2 linked regions of the Homo sapiens genome follow. The protein of the gene in region 1 interacts with the protein of each later gene in a pairwise test. Each region holds a gene or a part of one and is shown on either strand. Other genes may lie near its edges.

Region 1 (16,866 bases):
AGAGAACTTTGTTCACGTGTTTATCTGCTGTCCTTCTCTCCACTATTATCCTATGACCCTGCCACATCCCCCTCTCCGAGAAACACCCAGGAATGATCAATAAATACTAAAAAAAAAAAAAAAAAAAAAAAAAAAAAGTTTGGGTTGAGAGAAGAAAGTGTCTTGGGAGGAATTTTTTAAAACTGAGAAGGCATGGAAACATATGGCATTTTTACATTTCTTTTACAAAATGTATTCAGGGCCGGGTGCGGTGGTTCATGCCTGTAATCTCAGTACTTTGGGAGGTCCGGGTGGGCAGATCACCTGAGGTCAGGAGTTCCAGACCAGGCTGATCATGGAGAAACCCCATCTCTACTAAAAATACAAAAATCAGCCAGGCATGGTAGCACACGCCTGTAATCCCAGCTACTTGAGAGGCTGAGGCAGGAAAATTGCTTGAACCCAGGAGGCAGAGGTCGCAGTGAGCCAAGATCACACCACTGCACTCTAGCCTGGGTGACAGAGCGAGATTCCATCTAAAAAAAAAAAAATGTATTCAGTGACTAATATCTCACAGATTCTATGCATGGAGTTAGAGATGCAAAAATCCAAAAATCCCCCATCTCATCCCTTAAGAAAGATCCATGGTCATGATGTAGTAGGTTCCTGAAAAATACTCAGGAAAAATACAGCTGTCTGCATTTTGTAATTTATAAATTAATTTATATGCAGCCAATTCTCGTGGTTGTTTGGCCACCAGTCATTTTCCCCACTCCCCCTTCTCTTTTTGAGAGACTTGGTTTTGTTCTGGTGAGTATCACTCCACCGGGTGACTCAGGGAATAGTCTCGTTAGTCAAAGACAATCATAATAACACCACATCCCCCTTGCCAGTGATTAGATGCTGCAGAGCTTCTGAGAAAATGAAACACACAGGGAGAGACCAGCCCCATCTCCTGCTGAATATAGTTGCACCTGCACATAGTCCCCAGAAGTGTGGGGCCATCTTGGTGCCAGCCCGAGGAAGAATTTAATACACAGAGGAGAGCAGAGCCAAGGGAATCCCAGAGAAGCAGGGGTGGCTCTAGTATGCCATGGCTGGCCCCTGTCCTACCTCTAGACCTAACATTTTATGAGGTAAAATGTCCTCTTATTGTTTAAGCCAATTTGGGCTGGAGCTTCTATTACTTGAAGTAAAAGGCAATAACTGATACAGTCTGCTTTGTCTCAGGAAGAGGATTTGGTATAAGAGGGAGAAGAGAGAAGGCAGATAGTATTACATGTTAGGTGATTCAGAAAGGCAAAATTCACATTCAGAGTAGGAGACCCAATATTGGTGATGCTGAAGCAAAAGGGCTTTGGGGTTAAGCCAAGTAATCAAAAACAAAAGTCTAAGTCCCCTATACGATCAGTTTCCTAATGGGGACTTACAACTGAACAGCAATGATCTCTTCTTCCTCCCAAAATAAATAAATGGAAAAAGTTAAGAAAGTCTTCCTCATCTAGCAATTTCCATGGCAAATTCTTTTGTGAGGGTCTAGAGCTTACCATGGTGTAGGGATGGCAAACTCCATTCATTTATTGACTCATTCATTCATTCAGCCAACAAATACATATCTGAGGAGATACCATGTGCCAGGCATATTAGTCAACAAGTCAGTCTCTGACCTAAAGGAGTATATATGTTTAGTGTGGGACAAAGGTGTTATAAATTTAGTGTGGGACAAAGGTGTTACAAATTTATTTATTGGTTAATTACAAATTATTGTAAGTGCTTTAAAGAAATAGAAAAGGGTGGTATAACAGAAACACTGGGGGCAAGGTCAGAGCTTTTAATTAAGAACACAGATTGAGGGAATCAGCCAGTCAACATGTGAATAAGTGACATTAAGTTGAGACCTGAAAGATAAATGGGAGTGCTGGGTGCAGTGGCACACACCAGTAATCCCAGCACTTTGGGAGTCTGAGGCCAGTGGATTGCTTGAGCTCAGGAGTTTGAGACCAGCCTGGGCAACAAGGCAAAACCCCGTCACTACAAATACAAAAAAAATTAGCCAGGCGCGATAGTGTGTGCCTGTAGTCCCAGCTACTCAGGAGGATGAGGTGGGAGGATCACCAGGAAGCAGAGGTTGCAGTAGGCCAAGATCACACTACTGCCCTCCAGCCTGGGTGACAGAGTGAGACCCTGTCTCAACAACAACAACAACAACAACAACAACAACAACAACAAACACATAGGAGTTAACCAGGCAGAACTGTGGGATGGGGGTGGGAGCACTCCTGACAGAGGAGGCTTGGTTGAAGAAATGAAAGCACACCAATGTGGCTAGAAGACACCAAGGGTGAGGTTGGGGGTGGGTGATGTGAGATGAATTTAGCGAGGAAGGCAGGGACCCAAACCTCTCTTGGCAATGCTAAGAATTTTGGATTTTACTAAGCGTGATGAGAAACCACTAAAAACTTTTAATCGAAGAAGGGACATGAAAAAAAGTTACACTTATAAGTGATCCCTACAGCAGCTGCACTAGAGTAGATAGGAGTTGGGCAAGAAAGTAACCAATTACTACTGCCAAAGTCCAAGAGATAAACGGGGCTTGGACTAGGGTGATGGCAATGAATAGAGAAATAAATGGATGAGAAATATTTTGGATGATGAGATAAATAGAAGGATTAAGGATGCTTCCTAAGTTTCAGTTTAAACAAATGTGTAGAAGGAAGGTGCCATTTACTGGGATAGGGAAGATGGCAAAGGAAGCAGGATTTGGAACAAGCAAAGATAAAGAGTTCAGTGTGTGATGCTTTTAAGATATCCCAGTGGAGATATTAAGTAGGTAGCTGGTTGTAAAATTCTGAAGAGAGGTCAGGACCAAAGGTAAAAATTAGGTGTCATCGACAGATAGACGGCATTTAAAGTCACAGGGATGGATGAGTTTATCTAGGGAGCTTAAGAATACAAATGAGAAGAATAGAAGTGAGACAAGAGAAGCCCGAGGAATTTCATACTTTAAAGGATAAGAGAGGCTGGGTACAGTGGCTCATGCCTGCAATATCCCAGCACTTTGGGAGGCCGAGGCAGGAGGATTGCTTGAGCCTAGCAGTTCTAGACCAGCCTGGGCTAATAGTGAGATATCATCTCTAAAAAAAAACATTAAAAAATTAGCTGGGTGTGGTGAGTGCCGGTGGTCCCAGCTACTCAGGAGGCTGAGGCAGGAGGAATGCTTGAACTTAGTAGGTCAAGGCTGCAGTGAGCTGTGTTTGTGCCACTGCACTCCAGCCTGGGCAACAAAGTGATATCCTGTCTCTAAATAAATAAAGGATGGGAAAGGAAGACCCACTAGTGGAGACTGAGTAGCCAACAAGTTTAGTTAAAACTAGAAGAGGTCTGCAATACTGAAAGATGAAAGTTTCCAAAAGGAGAAATGGTCAGTTGAATTGATTGCAGAGAAGAGAAAAATGTCGCTTGATTTCAGCACCATGGAGGTCACTGATTGCCACTGTAAGATTGTCAGGTGGATGGAGCTCTGCAAATACCGGAAGAATCAATTTATAGGATTCATTAGATTCAATGTTAGATTTTGAGGTTTTCTTCCCTGAGAGCTTCTGCTTTTTATTTGTTGTTGTTGCTGTTGTTTGTTTTTAAACAGGGTCTCACTCTGTGACCCAGACTGGAGTGCAGTGGCGCGATCAAGGCTCACTGAAGCCTCAACTTCCCAGGCTCAAGTGATTCTCCCACTTTAGCTCCCCTAGTAGCTGGGACTAAAGGCGCATGCCACCACGCCTAATTTCTTTTTAACTTTCTGTAGAGACACAGTCTCACTATGCTGCCCAGGCTGGTCTTTAACTCCTGGGCTCAAGGAATCCTCCCACCTCGGCCTCCCAGAGTGCTGGGATTACAGGTGTGAACCACTGTGCCTGGCTGGTTCTAACTGCTTATAAGGATGGTTATTTCATTATTTTTATTCTTTCTTAGACTCTCACTTTTTCCAAAAATGTAAATTTCCCTTTAAAAAATATAATAAAACTCTATCTTGCAAGTCCCACATAGGGTCCACTGGACCCTTTCATAACTTAACAGGATCTTGGTGATTCTGATTTCCTCTAGCTCCAGAAATTTTGCTATATCACTATCCTAGGGATTATTTCAACATTTTTCAGCAATTCCCAACTGTACAAGACAAGACAAAAATAGTTAAGGTGGGTGCTATAACAGAAGCACTGGGGACAAAAGTGAAATAAATCATCGCTATTAGATGATTCTTCCTTTATCTTATTGTAATGCCCAAAACACTGTATCATCTTTTAAGAGGGTAGAAAAAAAATCTGGAGATATTATTTTAATAGTATTTGTTGTTTTTTTTAAAGCTTTCGTTGATAAATATTCAGAATTTTTCATTTTTTCCCATAACGGCAAAGAGAAGAAAATTGATGAAAATATTTCTAATAATTAGAAAAAGCAGATGTCTAATGCAAAAAGACAGAGGACTCTATACTTTAAAGATGATGGTGAAATTTTATTTATTTAATTTTATTTTAGAGACAGGATCTTGCTCTGTTGCCCAGACTGGAGTACAGTGGTGTGATCATAGCTCACTGCTTCCTCGAACTCCTGGGTTCAAGTGATTCTCCTGCCTCAGCCTCTTAAGTAGGTAGGACTACGGGTATATACCACCATGCCCAGCTATTTTTTTTTTTACTTTTTGTGGAGAGAGGGTCTCATGCTGTTGCCCAGACTGGTCTTAAACTCCTGGGCTCAAGCAATCCTCTCACCTAGGCCTCCCAAAGTGCTGGGATTTATCGGTGTGAGCCATCGTGGCTGGCCTGAAACATGTAAGTGAAATCTCAGATTATGAGTCTTTAGATAATGATATCCTAGATACATTTTCTCAAACTCAAGAACTGACAATTCAACAACATATACCTAAGGATAAAAAGGAAATAGGGTATTCTCATCCAGTTTGACATTTAATAGGAATTACTTCCTTATTCAATACTTTGCAACAAGAACCTGAGCCATCCTAAAAAAGTGTGATATCTTGTCATCTTTCATGGTGTTGTGCATCCAATATACTTCATATAGTTTATAAGATAACAAATGATAAAGGCAGATGTATATATACAAAGGTGAAGGGAAGGAAATCTATAAGGAAGAGATGAAAAAATTCATTGGATTGCTAATTCTACTTGGTGTTTATAAATCTAAAAATGAAAATATTTTGCAACTAAGAAACAAAGAAAATAACTACTGTCTCTTCAACAAAATGATGAGCCATCAAAGTTTTCAAAAGCACTGCTTTTTGTTTATTCAAGTGCAAGCAGCACAAAGGTAATGATAAGTTAGAATCGTTAGAGATGTATTTGATTCTGGGTGTGGTGGCTCACACCTGTAATCTCAGCACTTTGGGAAGCTGAGGCAGGTGGATCACTTGAGGTCAGGAGTTCAAGACCAGCCTGGCCAACATGGTGAAACTCTGTCTCTACTAAAAATACAAAAAATTAGCCGGGCGTGGTGGTGGGTATCTGTAGTCCCAGCTACTCTGGATGGTTAGGCATGAGAATTGCTTGCACCCAGGAGGCGGAGGTTACAGTGAGGCAAGACTGCGCCACTGTACTCCAGCCTGGGTGACAGAGTGAGACTCTGTCTCAAAAAAAAAAAAATGTATTTGAAGCCTGGAATCAATATTTATAAGATGATTGTGTTCCTGGTTCATATATGCTAATTGATAAGTAGTCAGTTACGTTCAAAGAACACTGTCCATTTAGGGTAAATAATCCTTCAAATGCAGGAAAATATAGAATAAAAAACGGGTTTGCTGTACTGAAATTAAAAATTTTTTAAAGAATTATTTTTCACTATTCCTTTAGTCTTAGCTCTGTAAATAATTTGCAAAATCACTTAACAGTATGAAAAAACAGAACAGGACCATTGGTGACAAGTATTTTCTCTGGCATATTGAGAGATAAACAGATTGGCATTATGTGTCTCACATAACAAGCAATAAAGAGGACAGAAAACACGAACCTGCCTCAGCCTCTTATAGACTGGTCTATAAGAAAATAGAAATATTATCTCACCTAATGGAGAGTGTCAGGTTAGGGCAGAGGGATTGTGGCTCAATAATGCCATCAAGGACCCAGCTCGCTTCTATGTCTCTTTGCCATCTCCAGTCCTGGTTTCATCTTTAGGCTTGTAGCAAGATGGCATTAGACCTAGACATATAACATCCAAAGGAAGAAAAAAACCCACCTATCTCTCTCTCTCTCTCTTTCTATTAAGAGTGAGGAAACTTTTTCCAGAATTACTCCTTTTCCTCCAGCTCCTTTCTCTCTTGCCTCCTGTTAGGAATAAGGGTAACAGGTATTACATAGGCTACAAACGGTATCAATGACAGTCTAATTGCAGAAGCAGAACTAAAACAACTTACATAATATCCACTAATTGAGAACTGTCACCAGGACTCAGAATGGACCGGACTAAGTAAGTCAGCCCTTTACAACTTCCCCTTTCCCATTTTAGTGTTGTTCTGTCATCTCCAAGCATTCAGGATATTGTCTTATTCCCTGCTCCTCTTGACAGCTGCGTACAAGAACAGCCAGCTGGTATATTTTCCAAGATAGGGTGAGTGGGAAGAGGTGAATAAAGGAGATGTATGGAACTGGGCGATGGGCCACGTGACCAGTGTTGGAGACTGAGATTATGACAAGCCTCAGGGACCAGGCAATGACCAATGGATGATGGGCAAAAGATTGGATTTTTGTAGCGGCCTTGAGTAGCCAATAAAATAAAATAAAAATAAAAAACAAGAAGACTGGGAGAGCTGGCTAGAGCTGTCTCCCAGAACTTTTTTGGCTAGGATTTTTGTATACTTTAAAAATCCAAAGGAGGAGGTGTGGCCAGAACCAGGATGAGGAAGAATGTGATGCTGAGAGGAAGCACAGGGAGAAAGAGGGGAGAAGGGAAGCATTTTGGTTCCTTTTGTCTCCTTTAACTGAAGTCCTGGCTTTAATAGTTTAAAATACACACTCTTCCTTTATAGTTGCCTAGTCAAAACCAAAATTGAAGATGATGGCTAGAGCAGGTTATGATTTTTTAATTGCCTCTTTTGGATGATCTTGTCTATTTGGACTGGGTTGGAACTGAAAGAGTCCTAGGAAGTGAGGAATGAGGCACAATATGTCAAATTCCTCTTCTATATGCAGTTACAAAAGCTGCTAGGCTCATGAGGAACATGCAGATTTTAGTCTGGAGAATAAAGGACATTTTCTGACCAAGGATGGAGTAAGGAAAGGTGGTGAGTTGCTGGCCACAGTATGACCTGGGACTGTATCTGAAAGTCACAACGTATAAAGCCAATACCTTCTATATAGCATCCTGACCAACACTGGCAGCCCTATGAGGTAAAGGCCTTCAGCAAACAGAAATAGCAAAGTTGCAAATTAGGGTTCTGTGTACACTCAATTGTGCAAAAGGATGATTGCTCATCAGGATAAACACTTAATCCACCATTTTAACAGTAAAAGTCCGAAGGAAACAAATGACTAAGTTTCCATTTCTACCACCTTTCTCTTACCTTTGTGAAATTTCAGCACATTATTCACAGCTAGTTCCCAACCAAGTCCAGAAACTAACACAATTAAAAAAAGAAAATGCAAAGTAAAATAGGCCCAGAATAGGTTCTTTTGATTACTTATGTTTTTGGAAATATATTTTCCTTTTTGAGTCTCCAAGAGTCCTCCTCTCAACAAGTGTAAGAGAGCCCAGGTGAGTCACTGTTCACTACTCATGGAGAAGCTAGAAGAGGCATGGTTGGGGTCTTACTAACTTTATCTCTATTTCCCATCATCGGAAAAATTCGTGAAGCCCAACGCTCTAAAACATAGATTAAGAAGTTGCTTTGAGTCTGGTAACGTGTCCTACACTGGCTGTTTAGAGCCCTGCACCACCAAGGATTAAATTCCAAAGGGGACTGGGGTGGGACAGGGCAGGAAAGCGGACTCAAACACATGAACTCCTCCCTTCCTCAAACCAAATATCTGCTGCTGATATGCCTTGATTGACTGTTAAATATGTATTAGGAAAAACAATCCCTTGCTATAAAATATCTTAAGTTTCTAAATCTATGTAGTGAGTTCTGTGTGTGTGTGTGTGTGTGTGTGTGTGTGTGTGTGTGTATGTTTTAAAGGGGGGACTTAATATTTCAAATGCAACTTCTTATATAACCATGGTATGGTGGCCCAAGACGCCAAACAGAACAAATGATTTGGATAAACAGTTTAAATTTTGTGAAAGCCTGGAGGAATCGAATTTGGACATGGAGGAAACCTGACAAAACCTTGGGTGCTATGTGATTCAAATCACAGCCCACCGAAGCGGCCACCGCGCGTACCAAGCCTTCCCCCCTAGCATACGCCTTCTGTGAACGGGCTCTTGTACCTGAACAAAGCGAGGACCCAAGTTCAGGGGCTTTGTCTCTAAAGAACAAAGATCGGCCTAGCTGCATGCTCGCTGTGCGAAAGAACCCAGGCTCCGTGGGAACCCCACGCCACTCGCGGAGCTGCGCCCCGGCGGCCGCCCTCGCCCCTCGGGCCCCTTTAAGTGCCGCGCCTGCCCCCGTCCGCGTCCCCCGCGTGCCCGGAGTACTGGGCCGCCCGCCCGCTCCTGGCCGCACCTCCCACCTCCCGCCTCCCGCCGGGGTTACGTGAGCCCGGGGCGGGCGGCCGCCGGGCCAATGGCCGCCGCCGGGGCCGCCGCGCTCCTCCCGCGCCGCCGCCGCCGCCGTGGGGCTGCGGGCTCCTCCCGCAGGAGATAACTGTCAGCGCGCGAGGCGGTGGCGGGCCGGCTCAGTCATATGACCGGCAGCCGGCGGCTCCGGCGCCGAGCAGAGTTACTCAGTCGCAGCGGCCCCGCGCTCCCGCAAGGCTGGGCGGCCGCGCCGCCGCGATGGCCCCGCCACCGCGGCCGCCGCCCCCGGCTGCGCGCTGAGCCGCCGGCCCCCCGAGCGCCACGGCCGGAGCTGCGGCGGCGGCATCATGGCCCCGACCCTGCTCCAGAAGCTCTTCAACAAAAGGGGCAGCAGCGGCAGCTCCGCGGCGGCGTCTGCCCAGGGCAGGGCTCCTAAGGAAGGACCCGCCTTTAGGTGAGGGGGCGCCGGGGGGCAATTCTGGCGCGGGACCCGAGTTGGCTTCGGTGCTCGCCGGGGAGGGGACGGGTAGGGGAAAGGGAAGGGACTGTCCAGGACGGCGCTGCCTATCGCCGGCACCTGGTCCCGGGCTTGTCAGCGTGGACGCGCCTGATCCGAGTGTGGCTCCGGACCCTCCGTGACCCTTCCTCCCGCTCTTTCTCCACAACTCAGGGTCCTTCCCCATTTCAGAGTTCTCTTGTGTTCCTTGGGGTTCCCGGGCGTGCGCTGTGCTTGGCTGTGGCGACCGGAGATTCTCCGGTTATTGGGGTGAACCCCTTCCGGGCAGAGCCGCCTGGGCACCTCTGCGGGCCCAGCAAAGCTGTGAGCTGTCATTTTGAGGGCAGCTCCAACCTATTGTGTACGTGACAGTGTTTTGAAGTTCTGAAGGAGCAACAGTCACGAAAAAGGCATCTTTCTTCTTTCTTGCCATATATGACAAGCTCTCAAACGGATGAATGAAAGTATGTAATTTCCACATCATGTGGAAGGTTGATGCCGCATGATGTGTGGAAAGGGGGAGTAAGATGCAATTATGAAATTTCCGAGATTTCAATTGATCAAAGCTGATATGTATATTTAATAGATTTGATCTCTCGAACACATACCTTTGAATATTGATAGCATTTATGGAGAGCTTACTACCTAAAATGCTTTATGTTGATTTCTGTCGTTTACTTTTCTGACAATGCGGTGAGGTGGGTGCTATTATAATTCCCATTTTACAGGTGAGGAAACTTAAAGTCACAGATAACTTAGGCGGCTTGCCCAAAATCCAGCTGTCAGTGGTAGAGCCTGTGTTTTGACCCAAGCAGTTTGACCACAGATTCCAGTCTTTAAAATCCCTATGCTATTCTGATTTCAAGGGCTAACTTTTAAAAGACGCCTTAAAATGTCCTATATTGCCTTTGAGCACAGGTATGTTGAGAAGTTTATTTAACAATTTTTCAACACATTTTAAAATTGAGCACCAACTCCCAATTCTGACACTATGCTAGGTGCTTTTTGGCCAAAATGTCTTGCAAAAACAGTTCACTGTTAAACAGATCTAGACCCAGTATAATAAACCTTTAAAAGTTTCAAGTGAAACTTTGAAATAAATTCTGGATTAAGTTTTATGTTCTAGATTTTGCTTTTCTTGAATTCCATCATTTAAAACAGTCTCTCACTGTGGTCATGTGAAAATTAAACGTGTGTGTGTGTGTGCACGCGCGCTCATGGAAGGCATATTGTGAGGACCTTAAACTCCCCAAGTTAAATTCTCATGTTTTCTTTAGGCTAACAAGCCTTATAATTTGAGTGGGAATTCTATGCCTTTTGTTAGGCTGAGTATTAGTGATGCCATGTACCTTCTCAGAATGGTAGAATTACTTCGGACCTAAGGTGTGTAATTTCGTCCCTTCCCTCCCTGTAACCCAGACTCCATCAGGGGTACAAAGCCTGGAGCGGAAGGAGCATGTTACAGGTGTCTGTACTTTGACAGCTCTTGCCAAGGACATTTAAAGCCATTTGAATGCAGGAGGAGATAGTGGCGGTTACTTGTCATTGTTTTCTGTGCTCCTTGCCTAATTGCCTACCACCATTTCCGCTATCCACAAGTTTAACTGAGTGTATTTGAACAAAAAAAATATGGCTATATTTAGGGTTTTGGGCCATATTAGGGAAATTGATTCCCACTTCATGGGAACATTTTCAGTAGTGTTCTGACTTCTCATTTGTGTATAATGAAGAACAGAAAATCGTGCCAAGTACGGTCTTTTTTTTGACCTCATTGGGATTTTCTACAAGAATTTGAGATCGATGTTTTTGGAGAATTTGGGGATCCCAGTTGAACATCCTACTTGATGAGGGCCCCCTTCAATAGTGTCCCTGATAGAGGTCACCATGGAAAAGAAAGTAAAGTAGCAGATGTGAGCAAGGATGCTGGACGATGGGAACAAACCATCCTGTGCTCACCAGACTGACAAAGGAGACCCCAAGCAAGTCTTTCCTTTTGCTCTTTTCACCTGGCTTAATTCTAAGATGCTGTGTAGCTGGCCTGGGAAAAGCTTCCAGGAAAATTTTTCTCTCTACCTAAAAAATTGTGAACCTGTGTTTCATTTTACCCAGATTTTGCCAAATAGGAGTTGGTATGTACTTTGAGGGGAACAAGGTGCCTTATTGCAGGGCATTAGCTGCCCTTGGGAACTACCTTGTAGTTAAATAGAGTTTTAGAAGTGAAGCTAAAACCCTTAGATTAAAAATCGAGTATTCCTAACATGAATTTGTATTCTTTAGTGCATTTAAGTACAGGATGTAACTTGTTTATCTGGAGATTGAAAATTCACTGAGGATTCAGGTAGACTTTTGGGGCAGTTTTGTAGTGTATATGGGGGAGAATCTAAGATCCAACTTTTTGTTTGTTTGTTTTAGAGTTTGTATATCTTCTGTTTCCATGATGGACTTTCACTGGTTATTTTAAACTTCTCTTCTCAGAATTGTTTTGCCCTTGTTGTTAGTCTTTTTACTCTTGTGCACTTCCTAGTCCCTTCGCTGGGCTTATGACTGTTCTCATTCCTCCAGTTTTTACACACTTGATTAGAGAGGAAATCTGTTGTCCAATATAACTAGTTTATCTCACAGGTCATTTTCAGGACTTCATGTTTCCTGGCATTTCATCTAAAAACAGGATCATCATAGTCAAGATTTCTTCTGGAGTATTTCCTTTAGGATCTTGACAGAAAGCCCTTTTCATAGCTTTGAGGAAACAGGTTGCTAGGAAAACAAAAGGAATCACGATTGACCAAACTTACATGTTTGGGAGAAGTAGTCAGGAATGCTATATGATTATGGCATTTACATTTGAATAATGCTTCGTACCAGAAAAATAAATTAGGACAAAAAAAATGATGTGTACAGTGACTCAAGTCAGAAATAGAATTATGTTCTTGGTTACCTTGGATTTAAGGCCAGGATGTTTTCAAGCCACGCTATGTCCAGTGACTTACATGTGTGGTTCACGTTTGAAGCATTATCTTAAGGTTGTTCTTGTTGTTGTTGTTTTTTTCTCCATGTCTTTTGTAAATTAATGGAGCAGTTTCAAACCCCTAAAATGTGTATTTAGCAGGGAGGTGAAAAGACCTTGGGCTACCAGATGTTCTTTTATTTTGGAGCAGTTAAATGAAGTAGGGAAGCATATATATTATCTGGGATATGAAGAACAAGTGAAGGCATTGCAGCTGCTTGTTAGCTAGCTGTGTGAATGCCAGAGAAGAGTATACCTAAGGCCAAATGGCCTAGTAAGTGCTGATCCCCACTGTTTTGTTAGAACAAATTTAATCTGTTATAGAGTTAGTATAAGTATAATTTAATCCACTTATCACATAGCATCTGATGCCTCTGTGCTTGTGGCTTGGCGCTCTACCTGTATAAATCCAGGCAGGACACCCACGGTCTCACCTACTGGAGTTTACAATCTAAAGGACAACAGATTATACACTAAGATGAATAAAGAGCAGACAACACATTGGAAACTATAACAAACAGATAAACACTGATAAAGAGTAGATTTTTATATAAGCACAGAATTAAGAACTTACTTGCTGTTCTTGTGCTTGGAGTGACTAAGGGCCGGATTGTGATTTACTCTTCCCTCACATGGAGGGAAATTACACAGAAGTGCTTCCTCCGCTCCCACTAATAAGTCTCCAGATGCAAGTATTTCTAATGAGATTTGTTCTGAGGTAGGGTGGATAATATTTTGGAAAAAAACAGTTTTGTTCTAGTACACTCAACATTTTTAATGCCAATAATATAAAACATGACATATAAATAGCAGTTTTGATTTCTTTTGACTACTTTCTAAAAGAAAGTCTTTCTGTAGATTTTTCTTGCTTGCTGCCTTGGATCTATTGGCACACTCCTTACATCATATCTCCTTGTCCTGAAAGATACTATGCACTGGTTAGTGATTTTTTCAGAGGTGAAGAAGGGAACCCTTCCTTTGAATGCAGTGAGTTCTATTAAGAGCACTTGGAACACAGATTGAGGAAGCCATTGATTTAGCCCTGCCTCATGTACCATGTTGATGGGAGACCCAACAAGACTCCATTTCTCTGATCCTCAGCTTTGTCATTTGTAAAGTGACAGCATCAGACCTATGTAACAAAGTTGTGGTAAGGAAGTAATGAGCTTGAAAATCTTTTGAAAAGAATAACATGCAATACAAACTGATTTTAAGTATTACTAAGCATCTTTTTTTAGGTCATGGAGTTCAGTATTATTCCTGTTGAGGCTTTACGAAAATGGAACCATTTTTCAGAGGCTGTTTTCTTTCTGTAGATGAGAGTTGAGACAGTGCTGAATTGAACTGTTTTCACTTGCATATTAGTTTTTTAACCTTGATGTAGTCATTCATGAAACAGAGACCTTAAGTTTTCAGAGGGGTCTTAAAGATGTTCAGCGGACACTCACTCAAACCTGGTAGAGGTGACGGGGTGTCAGAAAGATTCTTAGAAATATGGTGTGTTTGTTTTTTCAAAGTTATTTGCAAGTTTTTATTATTAAGAATAAAATTGCATTTAGCCAAAAAAGGAAATTGGTTAAGCAAAATGATATAGTCACACAATGGATGACATTCTATAGCATCCAAATCATAATTTTATACACAGACACACAAAACAAAAGAAAAATGTTCTCAATAGAAGAAGTAAAAGCAACTCTAATAGCCTGACTTCACCACTGTGCAATCTATGCATGTAACAAAATTACACTTATACCCCATAAATTTATATAAATTTTAAAAAGTAAAAGCAAGTTATAAATTTATGTGAAAAACATTTAAAAATAGGAGCGATTATGCATGTGCAGAATAGGCCAGCAACACTCTACACCAACATATTATAACAGTGGTTGCCAAGAGGTAGGTGAAAATTTTATTTTAATTTTTTGTGTTTTATTCTTGTTGGTATTTTTGGATTTTGCTCTAATGAATTTGTGTTACTTTTGTGATTTGGATTATTTTAAACCTAAATATTCTAGATTATTTAACTATTAGATTATTTAACTATTTAAGATAACTTAAATAGCATTTAGCATATTCTACACTGTGAGGGAATAGAGTAAGGATAATGTTTATGGAGAAATCTGATTTGAATAAATTTCATAGAATCTTTCTTCTTCATCAAAATAACTGTTAGCTCCTATTATTAAAAGTAATATGTTTGTTATGAGGTTTAATGTATTTAAAATCTAAACTCATTATAAACCTCAGAGGCTAAGTTAATTGGCAGTGTCAATAATGATAGGAGATATGTATGTGCAAAATGTTTACTAGTTTGACAGGGTCGCTACTTCACCTGAGCTTCAGAGCCCAGTGTAGTCTTCCTGGGGGCTCAGAGTACAGTTAGGAGCTGCATGCAGCTCAAGCTTTATTTGAAATATGTTTAGAAAAGACTGACACAGCCCTTTGGATTTTGAGGGAATGTGGATAAGAGGCCTGGATTAGATGTTTTAAAAGCTAAAACATGTAGTTATAATTTTAAGTCCTGAAATTTGAATTTGTTGTATTATGCATTATTATTTGATTTAGTAGGTGGTACTAAGAGATGGACGGAGGCATGTGGTCTTTTAATGCATGGAGTATATAGCTCCAAAAAGAGCATTGGTTTTTGTTGTTGCTTTAGGTTGTGTTTCTCGTGGTTTGCCTGTAAGGTCAGCCTAAGGAAGCTACTTTGCCGTTGTGTTTCCTTGGAAAAGGAAGCTGTAAAAGATTGTCCTTGCCGTCATGAAATACTTTGGCTGCCAGCATGAACTCCTGGTGTGTGAATCTGATTTGGGAACTGGTAATGTGCTTTATTTCTCCAGCCACTGTTTTTCTTGGTGTGGGTGAAAAGGAACAAATGTTTTGTACTGATTGTACAAGCCCCTTGCTTAGTGTGAATTGTTAGGCCTGGACTATGAGATCATATACTTGGCTGTAAAAGTAAGTCTTTCCTTTGGATGTAAGAGTGCTGAAATATTTGGTGAGTTCCTACTTACCAAGCATTCTTTATCTCAGATTTATGAAAAATGATTATTATGTAAAAAAAGGAAAAACAGGATGGACTTTTCCAGCTAACTGGGCATGTAACAGTGATTTCCCTCAACCCCACCCCATCTGTAAATGGAACATCCATGACTCACTACTCATGGCCACACAGACACTTTTGTAACCAGTGCTTGAATGGGAGGGTGGGATGGGGATGGAAGGAGATGGGCTGGCACCCCACTTGTGTTCAGCCAGAATCTGTCCAGCTGCCTTTATAATGGACTTCTGAAAAGGACAATGTGCCTTCTCATGCATCATGCTACATATTTTTTTTTCCTTATTGCACTTTCTGTTTGTGCCAGAATAATACAATATATTAAGTGCAATAAAATGTAGCCATTAATACTATAATGTTGTGGATAAATGTTGTATAGCAGAGTACTCTTTCTGTTATATAAGATTTTAGTATTAGCATGAGTTTGGATCCCCGATTATCATATTTCTGTCTCCTGAACTGTGTGCCTTCATTTCTAGGAATTATTTTTCTAGTTATTTGTCCCTGTAAACTTGTTTAATTTGTAGATTATACTTTAGAATTTGTGTCCATCATAGTGCTATAAGAGATTTATATATTGGTTTATGAAGATGATTTTATTACCACACCTAAGACTTTTTAATCATAAATAAGAGATTTCTGTATTTGATATATATCTTTAAATAAATGATTGGTGTTTGGTTATGTGCTGATGTCTAATTGAAAATGACAACCAATTCATGCAGGGTGTCTAAGTGAGAATGAACACTGAGGCAGTAGGAATTCATCCCAAAAGCTGAGGGGGGCTAATTAAGAACCTACATATCTGGTGGGGACCTCAGCCTGATTCCCAGTAAGGATAGTTGCATGTTGTCATAGCAACTCTTTCTTCACAAGTTGAAGACAAGTTAGACGTTAACCTGCACATTCCTCAAGAGATGAAACAGGTGTTGATTTAGGATGTGTTAGGAAGCAGCAGCAAATTCACCAGTTCAATTGATTCTGGCTTTAACACCTTATAAATACTTCAGACTGCCAACTCTCTCTCTGATATGCCTGGAAAATTGGACATTTTTTGTCTTATAGTCAAAACCTTTGGGGTTATGGGGGGAAAAGTATGTTATCATTCATTTCTTCATTAGCTATCCTCATTTACTCAAGTTCTTTTATAAAATATGATTTAAAGATAGTTACAAAAATACCTTTTAAATTCAATGCCACAAAGTCTTTTAAAGCATACATTTGAAATAACTGTAAATGAAACAAGAAAACGTACATGTGATAGTTACAGCATGGCTGTGAGAGTTCGTCTAAATCCTAGCCTTGCCATTGTGTCTCTGCTTTTAATGCAGTGCTTGGCAGGAAGTTGGCGTTTAATAAATACCTGTTGAATGAATGAATGAATTCAAGAGTTTTGAACACTGATGATCCTTAAAGAGTCTCTAGTATTCCAGAATCTGATCTCTTGAAATATTTCTTGATGTTTCTAGCATGCGTTGTGACATTTTAGAAAATGAATCTTGTTACAGACAACTCAAAGAAATTTCCTCCTTTTTGTCAATATTAGTGAATTATTTTCCTGGTATCAAAATGATAGGGTAAAAGTGCTCTAACAGTTGATTGACCTGCACCCCCACCTCCCTAAAAAAACCTTTAAGAAGACACTTGCCT
Region 2 (8,137 bases), on another chromosome or scaffold:
TAGAAGCACTTATGGAAAGACCGTCAGCTGTTCTCTGCTGGTGAGAAAACTCAAATCAGTAAGAAAAATGCCAACAGCGTGTCTACGGAACACACCCAGTCGGCCACAGTTCTCGAGGATCTACACGTTGTTTCTTTTTTTTCCACTTTTTTTTTTTTTTTTTTTTTTGAGACGGAGTCTCACTCTGTCGCACAGGCTGGAGTGCAGTGGCGCAATCTCGGCTCACTGCAACCTCCGCCTCCTGGGTTCAAGCGATTCTTCTGCCCCAGCCTCCCAAGTAGCTGGGACTACAGGCACCTGCCACCATGTCCGGCTAACTTTTTTTGGTATTTTTAGTAGAGACGGGGTTTCACCGTTATCTGCCAGGCTGGTCTCAAACTCCTGACCTCATGATCCCCCGACCTCGGCCTCCCGGTCCACTTTTGTTTTAGCTTGAGGGCGTACGTGTGCGGCTTTGTTACAAGGGTATGCTGCGTGGTGCTAAAGTTTGGGCTTCTATGAATCCTGTCACCCAGACAGTGAACCACAGGAAGTAATATGCCCAGATAGTATCCAATAGAAAGCATTTCAGCCCTTCCTCCCCTTCCTCCCTCCCTCCCTCCTTCTGGAGCCCCCAGTGTCTACTATTCCCATCTTTTTTATTTGAGACAGTGTCTCGCTCTGTTGCCCAGGCTGGAATGCAGTGGCACGATCACGGCTTACTGCAGCCTCAATCTTCTGGGCTCAAGTGATCCTCCCAACGAAGCCTTCCAAGTAGTGGGACTACAGGCATGCGCCACCACGCCCAGCTACTTTTCATATTTTTTGTAGAGACTGGACCTCCCTATGTTGCTCAGGCTGGTCTCAAACTCCTGAGCTCAAGCAATCCACCTGTCTCGGTCTCCCAAGAGCTGGGATTCCAGGCGTGCACCAGTGCCTGACTTCGTTCTTTATGGCTACATCCAACATCATTTCATTTAGTCCTCTCAGCTGTTCTGAGGTCAGCACTATTATCTCCATTTCACAGATGAAGAAATTAGTATTTGTCATTTCAACGAAACTTCATGGAGCCCTCACAAATGACAACATCTCCATTTCACATCACGAGACCCAAAGGGAAGGGTGCACGTCAGAAGCAAATCCAGGATGCGAAGCCAGGTCTGTCTGATGCCAAAGGGCAAGCCCTGAGCCCGAAACCCCATACTGCGCATGCCCAGCACACCTGCGTTTCCAGCTCTCACAAAGGCTTCGACAGACCTGGCTCTTCGTGCTAAAAAGCTCACCAAGACACTGCCCTTGCCATCTGCACCTGCCTAGAAACATGATTAGCACTATAATAAATGGCTCCAGGGCCAGCCAACCTGCAGGGCATGGGGGTGGATTCCCAGGCTTTGTCTTTCCTGACCAGGTTTTGCTCTTGCTGAGACTCCATTGGCAAAGCTTATTTGAGGGCACGCCTGCACCTGCCTGCAGAAACACCTCGAAACAGCTCTGGCTGTTTGGAAGGCTGGTCATTTGCAAGCAGAAGCATGGGAAGCATTATTAATGACATGTGGTGTGGAACAATGGTCGTACCACAGACCTGTAGCACCAAGATCAAATCATCCCTGATGGAAAGCTTGGCCAAGACTGGCCCAGTGCTTCCAGGCTGGTGCACACAGTGCCACGATCCCCAAACACAGGGCCCCAAGCCCCAGATCAGGAACCTGGGGAAGCCCAGGCACCTGGGAGGTCAGGGAACCACTGCCCTTCATGGAAAACTTGGGACGAACTGAAACAGAACACTTTATTTGTAAAGGAGCAAAGACCGTCGACCAGGCCAAGCACTTGGCTATCACAAAATCGGGACGAGAAGCCTTTAATCAGCCAGTTCTCTCTACAGACAGCCCACCTGTGAATTTTCCCCACCTAGCTGGGGAACAGATTCTTTCACATGGCGGTCAAGGCAAACGAGACAGGAAATCACAACAATCACAACAATCACACCGAGATCGGAGGGTGAGCTTCCCGAAGGCTCGTTCTGGGCTGATTCAGAGCCGCGTTTCCCTCCCTCAGCGATTCCTGCCAGGAGAGCAGACAGCTGGTACCGCCCCACGGCCATCCGGGCCAAGGCCCCGGCAACAGCACCCCTGCCTCACCAGCGAGCTTCTCCATCTGGACCAAGGTATCCTCGGTCGGAGCACCTTCCAGGAGCTTCTCGGTCAGCCGGCTGCCACACGCCTTCAGGAGCCTGGAGAACACAGCACCAGCTATGAGCGTTCTCGCCAAAGGAAAAAGCAAACCTGACGCTCACCCAGCCCCTGATCCTACCAGTTTAAAGAAAAAATGGGTATAAAAGAACACCAGCAGGGCACAACCAGCCAGATCCCGCATGCAGGCAGTTCCACAAGTCAACGACCAAGGTCCTTCAATAGATGGATGGGAGGAACTTGGAGGGGAGGGGATGCAAGGGGGAGCTGTTCTAAACCAGAGAGACTTGGGGCGCTGCTCCGATGCCAATGCAGTCACTTGTGAGACAAAAGGTAAACTGCACAAGGGCTTGCAGCCTGGAGAACACTCAGGAGTCTGTCCGTTTTGTCGGACATGATCACAGTATTGTGATTATATTTATGGCTGGAATGATACGACTCAGATTTGCTTTAAAAAAAAAAAAAAAGGCTGGGCGCGGTGGCTCACACCTGTAATCCCAGCACTCTGGGAGGCTGAGGCAGGTGGATCACATGAGGTCAGGAGTTTGAGAACAGCCTGGCCAACATGGTGAAACCCCGTCTCTACCAAAAATAAAAAAATTAGCTGGGTGTGGTGACAGGCGCCTGTAATCCCAGCTACTTGGGAGGCTGGGGCAGGAGAATCACTTGAACCCAGGAAGAAGTGAGTTCCACATCAATATGTTTTCAGCACACTCAGGGGAAGAGGCCTACAGAACAAGGACTCCCAGCCCAGATCTGTGCTCACTGACAAGTGCCCACAGGCCAGTGCTCCTCACAGAGGCAGCAAGCAAACACGGCTAAGGACTGTTCTCCCAAATCCATGGACAAGCCAACCAATGTATCGTGACTGCTCTATCCTAACAGATATGCCAAAAGCAGAGACGCCCGTTACCAGGCAAAGGAGGTGTGCAGGCACGCCCACAGGTTGTCATCACTTGTCAGCGATGTCAGCGAGCGGGCGGCGTTGCCGTTCCTCTGGTGTAGGAATGGCGTGAAGGCTGTGTTCATCCTCTGAGCACGCTGTGGGCATCCAAACTGCTCTGCCTCAAACACCTGAAATGCAAAGGGAAGGGATGGCCTCTTTAAGCCAAAGCTGCCAGCAGCTCGGACCCCTACTCGTTCACAGCCAACTCCAGGACCTGACTCCTGGAGGATCAGTCCCACTATACTCTCTCCATGCAGAGCACACAAAGTGCCACCAGTCCAATCATTCCCAACAGCATAGCTCTGCCCCGGCTACATCAGGAGCTATCCGAGAACAGAAATCGGTTGAGCTTCTCCTGTCCCCTTCCTAATGAGTGACCCAAGGCACCCAGGGGGATTCTCGTGAGTGGCCATCTGCGCTGCTCCCCACCTGTCTCCACCTCCCCTTCTGGGTGCACTACTTGGCTAAGGCACACGTGACTGGCTCTGGTCAATGAGCTGAGACAAACAAGGCCCTCAGCACCATCTGTGCTTCTGGAGGGCAGAAGGAGCAACATTTTTTCCTTTCTTTTTTTTTTTGAGATGGAGTCTCACTCTGTCGCCCAGGCTGGAGTGCAATGGTGTGATCTCGGCTCACTACAACCTCTGCCTCATGGGTTCAAGCGTTTCTCCTGCCTCAGCCTCCCAAGTAGCTGGGATTACAGGCATGCACCACCATGCCCAGCTAATTTTGTATTTCTGGAAGAGACGGGGTTTCTCCATGTTGGTCAAGCTGGTCTCAAACTCCCGACCTCAGGTGATCTGCCCGCCTTGGCCTCCCAAAGTGCTGGGATTACAGGCGTGAGCCACTGCGCCCAGCCTAGGGGAAGCATTTTCATATGGCTGCCGCTCTGCCTGCCAGGACGACCACAGCAAGCAGAGCCCCACTCTCCTGCAATGCACACACCATGAGTAAGAAACAGGCCCTATGGCTTGAAGGTGCTGAGATCCGAGGCTGTTACCAGAGCACGACCTGGCCTGGCCTGGCCTGAGCTGCATCTCCACAGCTGGAGGCCTACATTCGGTGGTGCAACTCAATGGGATTAACAGACATCCCTGAGATGAAGGCCAGAGGAAACAAAGACACCAGGGGTCTGACTGCAGCAAAGAAACCAGAGCTGAGCGAGAACCAGGACAACGGGCACAAGAGAGACCAGCAAAGCAGGCGGGATGGCCTGGGAGGCTCCTCACGACCTCCAGCTCTGAAGCCAAGAGACTACAATTCACACAGTGCACTGGCTGTAAGCAGAGGGGAAGACGCCACGCGGTCTCCAGGCCTCAACCTCAGCACAGAGCGGCTCATGCAGTGCAGGGCCCCCTGCCGCCCCGGCACCTCATCTCTGAATTCACCTTGAGCGCCTTGCCCTGGAGCTCATCGATGATTCCCCGGACCTTCCCCAGCAGGAAGGGCCAGGAGTTGATGAGGTAGATCCGGTCCATCATGATGGTGATGATGCTGTACCAGCGCTGGAAGCCCCTGGCCAGGCTGTCCTTGATGAAGAAGGTGTGGCTGAACACAAAGCCGTGCTGCTCATCTCCGAAGAAGATGGGGCCTTCACGGCCAGGGCAGACCTGGAGGGACACCGGCGACTCAGACAGCCCTTTCCTCGCTTAGTGACACCAAATCAAAGCCTCTTCTTCAGACTTTTCAGAGTCAGCTGGCACAAATCAGCCAGCGTTAATAACGGGGAGAGTGGCACAGTGGGGGCCATGAGAGCCGAAGACTGTACTCTTCTGCTCCTGTGATCAAGCTTCCAACAACACTTGTCATTGTGGACTGCAAGGGCCGGTAACAAGGCTTATTGCTTTTCTTCCACCTTGAGCCATAAATAACTCCCATGCATATGTCACACCTCTCCCAGACTCAAATGTACCAGCTTACTCACCTGGAGCATGCAGAAGAACCAGCAGGTCAGAGCAGCCACTGCACTCTCCCTGCACTGAAATCCGCACATTTTATTCTTTCTTTCTTTCTTTATTTGAGATGGAGTCTCGCTCTTGTCACCCAGGCTGGAATGCAGTGGTGTGATCCTGGCCCACTGCAACCTCCGTCTCCTGGGTTCAAGCAATTCTCCTGCCTCAGCCTCCTGAGTAGCTGGGATTGTAAGAGTGTGCCACCACGCCTGGCTAATTTTTTTGTATTTTTTTTAGAGAGGGGGTTTCACCATGTTGGCCAGGCTGGTCTCGAACTCCTGACCTCAGGTGATCTGCCGGCCTTGGCCTCCCAAAGGGCTGGGATTACAGGAGTGGGCCACCATGCCCAGCCCCACGTACTTTATTCTTATAAGAGGATTTCAGTCCCTCCTCATTACATACTTACTCTTCCTTAACACACAATTCTAACAGACATGCCGAGCTGCCTGCTAGCAGACCAGCGGTAGGAAATTAAAAGGAGAGGACAGTTGAGGGCAGGCACACAGCCACACTGAATGAGAACAGTAAGGGAGCTTGGTGTGTCGAACTGGGTGGACACCAATGACAAGGAAGTTTAGTAACTGAACGACGAATTCTTTGTAACAAAGACCTGAGCTCAGAGTCAAGAGCAACAGCAGCAGCGACGTAGTTTAGGAAGAAATCATCCACACCTCAGCAGGCTGAGAGCAGCACGGGATCATCACTGAGACTTGGAATGAGGACTGAGATAATAAAAAAAGGTGATGTTGATGCAATGAACCACCTAACCTAGAAATGCTTCCTATCTTAGGAATACATCCATCAAGAATAGACACACATGGCTGGGCATGGCGGCTCACACCTGTAATCCTAGTGCTTTGGGAGGATGAGCCAGAGGATTGCTTGAGTTCGAGACCAACCTGGGCAACATACTGAGACCTCATCTCTACAAAAAAATTTTAAAAAGGTGGGGCACAGTGGCTCCCACCTGTAATCCCAGCACTTCGGGAGGCCGAGGCGGGCAAATCACAAGGTCAGGAGTTCAAGACCAGCTCGGCCAACATGGTGAAATCTCTTCTCTACTAAAAATACAAAAAATTAGCCGGGCATGGTGGCACACGCCTGTTGTCCCAGCTACTCAGGATAGCTGAGACAGAAGAATCACTTAAACCCAGGGTGGAGGTTGCAGTAAGCCGAGATTGCACCACTGCACTCCAGCCTGGGCAACCGAGTGAGACTCTGTCTTAACAACAACAAAAAACAAACCCCAGTTGAGCATGGTGGCACACACCAGTGGTCCCAGCCACCTGGGAGGCTAAGGCGGGAGGATCGCTTGAGCCCAGGAGTTTGAGGTTGCAGTGAACCATGACGGCACCACTGCACTCCAGTCTGGACGACAGAGCGAGACCCTGACACAAAAGAAGGAAAAAAGAAAACAATAATAATAAAGAAAGGACAAATAATAAAAGTTCGGTGCTTAAAGTGCAAAAGCTAGCACTCAATCAGAAAATGCTCAGCAAGTCCAACATGACTCCTCCCGCAATTCTGGACAAGGGAGGCGTCCTGTACCCTGTGCTGTGCTGATCTGCGGGTCCGCCCTGAGAGAGGACCAGTGCCTGCCTCCCTGTGCAATGCTGGCTCCGAGCCCACCCAGAGCACCTGGGAGCATGTGGGCTCCCACAGAGACAGGCTCTGTGGCCACAAGGCTCACCTCACAGCTCAGGCTCCGGACACAGGCCTGGCGGACAATGCTGAAGAGCTGGGGGTGGCTGGGGTGCTGGTGGCTGACGTATTTAATGGAGGTCTCTTTATCATGGCTGATATATCCCGGGTGCCCTGCAGCAAGTGACCGGCAGCCCTGTCCATGAAAAGGAAAAGTAAATCTGTTAGTTGGGAAGCAGGGCGACAAACTCTCTTAGGTTTATGCAAATCTGAGCTCGGAAAACTCAAGCTATTTTTGTAAAAAAATAATTGGCTTCCAGATTTATACTTATCTGAAGATTTAAATGTTTCCTAAAGAGGAAAACAGAACACAGAGATCGCAGAGATTGCCAGAGGTTGTTCCTAACAGGTATTTGCTGAGCACTTACGAAGTAGGTAACATGAAAAGGGCCCTGCATGCTCCATCTCATTCAATCCCAAGTGCCACCCTCTGAGATAATGTCAGTGAGAAGCCCCATTCTACAGAAGACAAAACTGAGGCTGAAGTGAGAAGTAGCTGGCCCGAGGGTGAGGGGCTCTGTGGTGGTAACACTACCCACTGCCCCCAGCCTCCATCATTGGTTCTGAACTAACACCTGGAAGGGGCTTCAGCCACAGGCGAGAGGCCCAATAAATAGGGCGAGCACCAAGCTCCAGGATGTTGGTGTGGCAGCTCACCACTGCTGCCCCGCTGCCCCGCTGCAGCCACAGCCACTCCGATGCTGAGGCTGTGCGCCCTGGAGCTGCTCCTACCCCAGGACTGTGCGGCAGTGCGTCAGCAAGACTCTCCCCACAGTGTCGCAGGATTCCTCCATGGGCAACCCCAAAACCAGCTCAAGGATGCCCCAGCAGCCTGGCGGTGCCCTCCTTCCCAGGTCTGAGGTGCTCCCCATCCCCCATTCCTTACAGGCAATTCCAGCAATGGATGCAGCTCTTACACGTCCTCTGCTTCTGCAGCAGAACCAAAAGAACAAGCTTGGGTTCCCGTTTGCACTGCAGTGGCAGGTCCAACACCCACCCCTGATTTTGGGCCCTGACCCAGGTCCTCCACAAAAACAAGTGGCCCACTGGGGAAAACTCACACTAATTCCCGAGAGTTCAAGAGCTGATGGAGTGACCCACCGAGAACACTGGGGGTCCTGGGAGCAGGAAACTCCACTGGGAGCACGGGACTTTGGGGACCCGCCTCCAGGACAGGCTGGAGTGTGTGAATACAAACATGAAGGCCACGGCAGGGAGGCAGAGTGGGTTAAAGAAGTTAACATAGGCTGGGTGTGGTGGCTCACGCCTGTAATCTCAGCACTTTGGGAGGCCGAGGCAGGTGGATCACCTGAGGTCACGAGTTCAAGACCAGCCTGCCCAACATGGTGAAACCCCATCTCTACTAAAAA

Evidence for each region.
Region 2: the proteins of FNIP2 (region 1) and FLCN interact in binary tests that used the Homo sapiens proteins (3 or more experiments, as listed by UniProt).

What each region holds. Positions count from the first base shown.
Region 1 is NC_000004.12:158,760,208-158,777,073, forward strand, and holds the start of FNIP2 (folliculin-interacting protein 2), read left to right. Parts: upstream 1-8,818; 5' UTR 8,819-9,005; coding exon 9,006-9,112; intron 9,113-16,866.
Region 2 is NC_000017.11:17,219,420-17,227,556, forward strand, and holds part of FLCN (folliculin), read right to left. Parts: intron 6,904-8,137; coding exon 6,757-6,903; intron 5,093-6,756; coding exon of another isoform or gene 5,039-5,092; intron 4,725-5,038; coding exon 4,503-4,724; intron 3,243-4,502; coding exon 3,082-3,242; intron 2,210-3,081; coding exon 2,118-2,209; coding exon of another isoform or gene 1,960-2,117; exon of another isoform or gene 148-1,959; intron 1-147. UniProt on the Homo sapiens protein: Multi-functional protein, involved in both the cellular response to amino acid availability and in the regulation of glycolysis.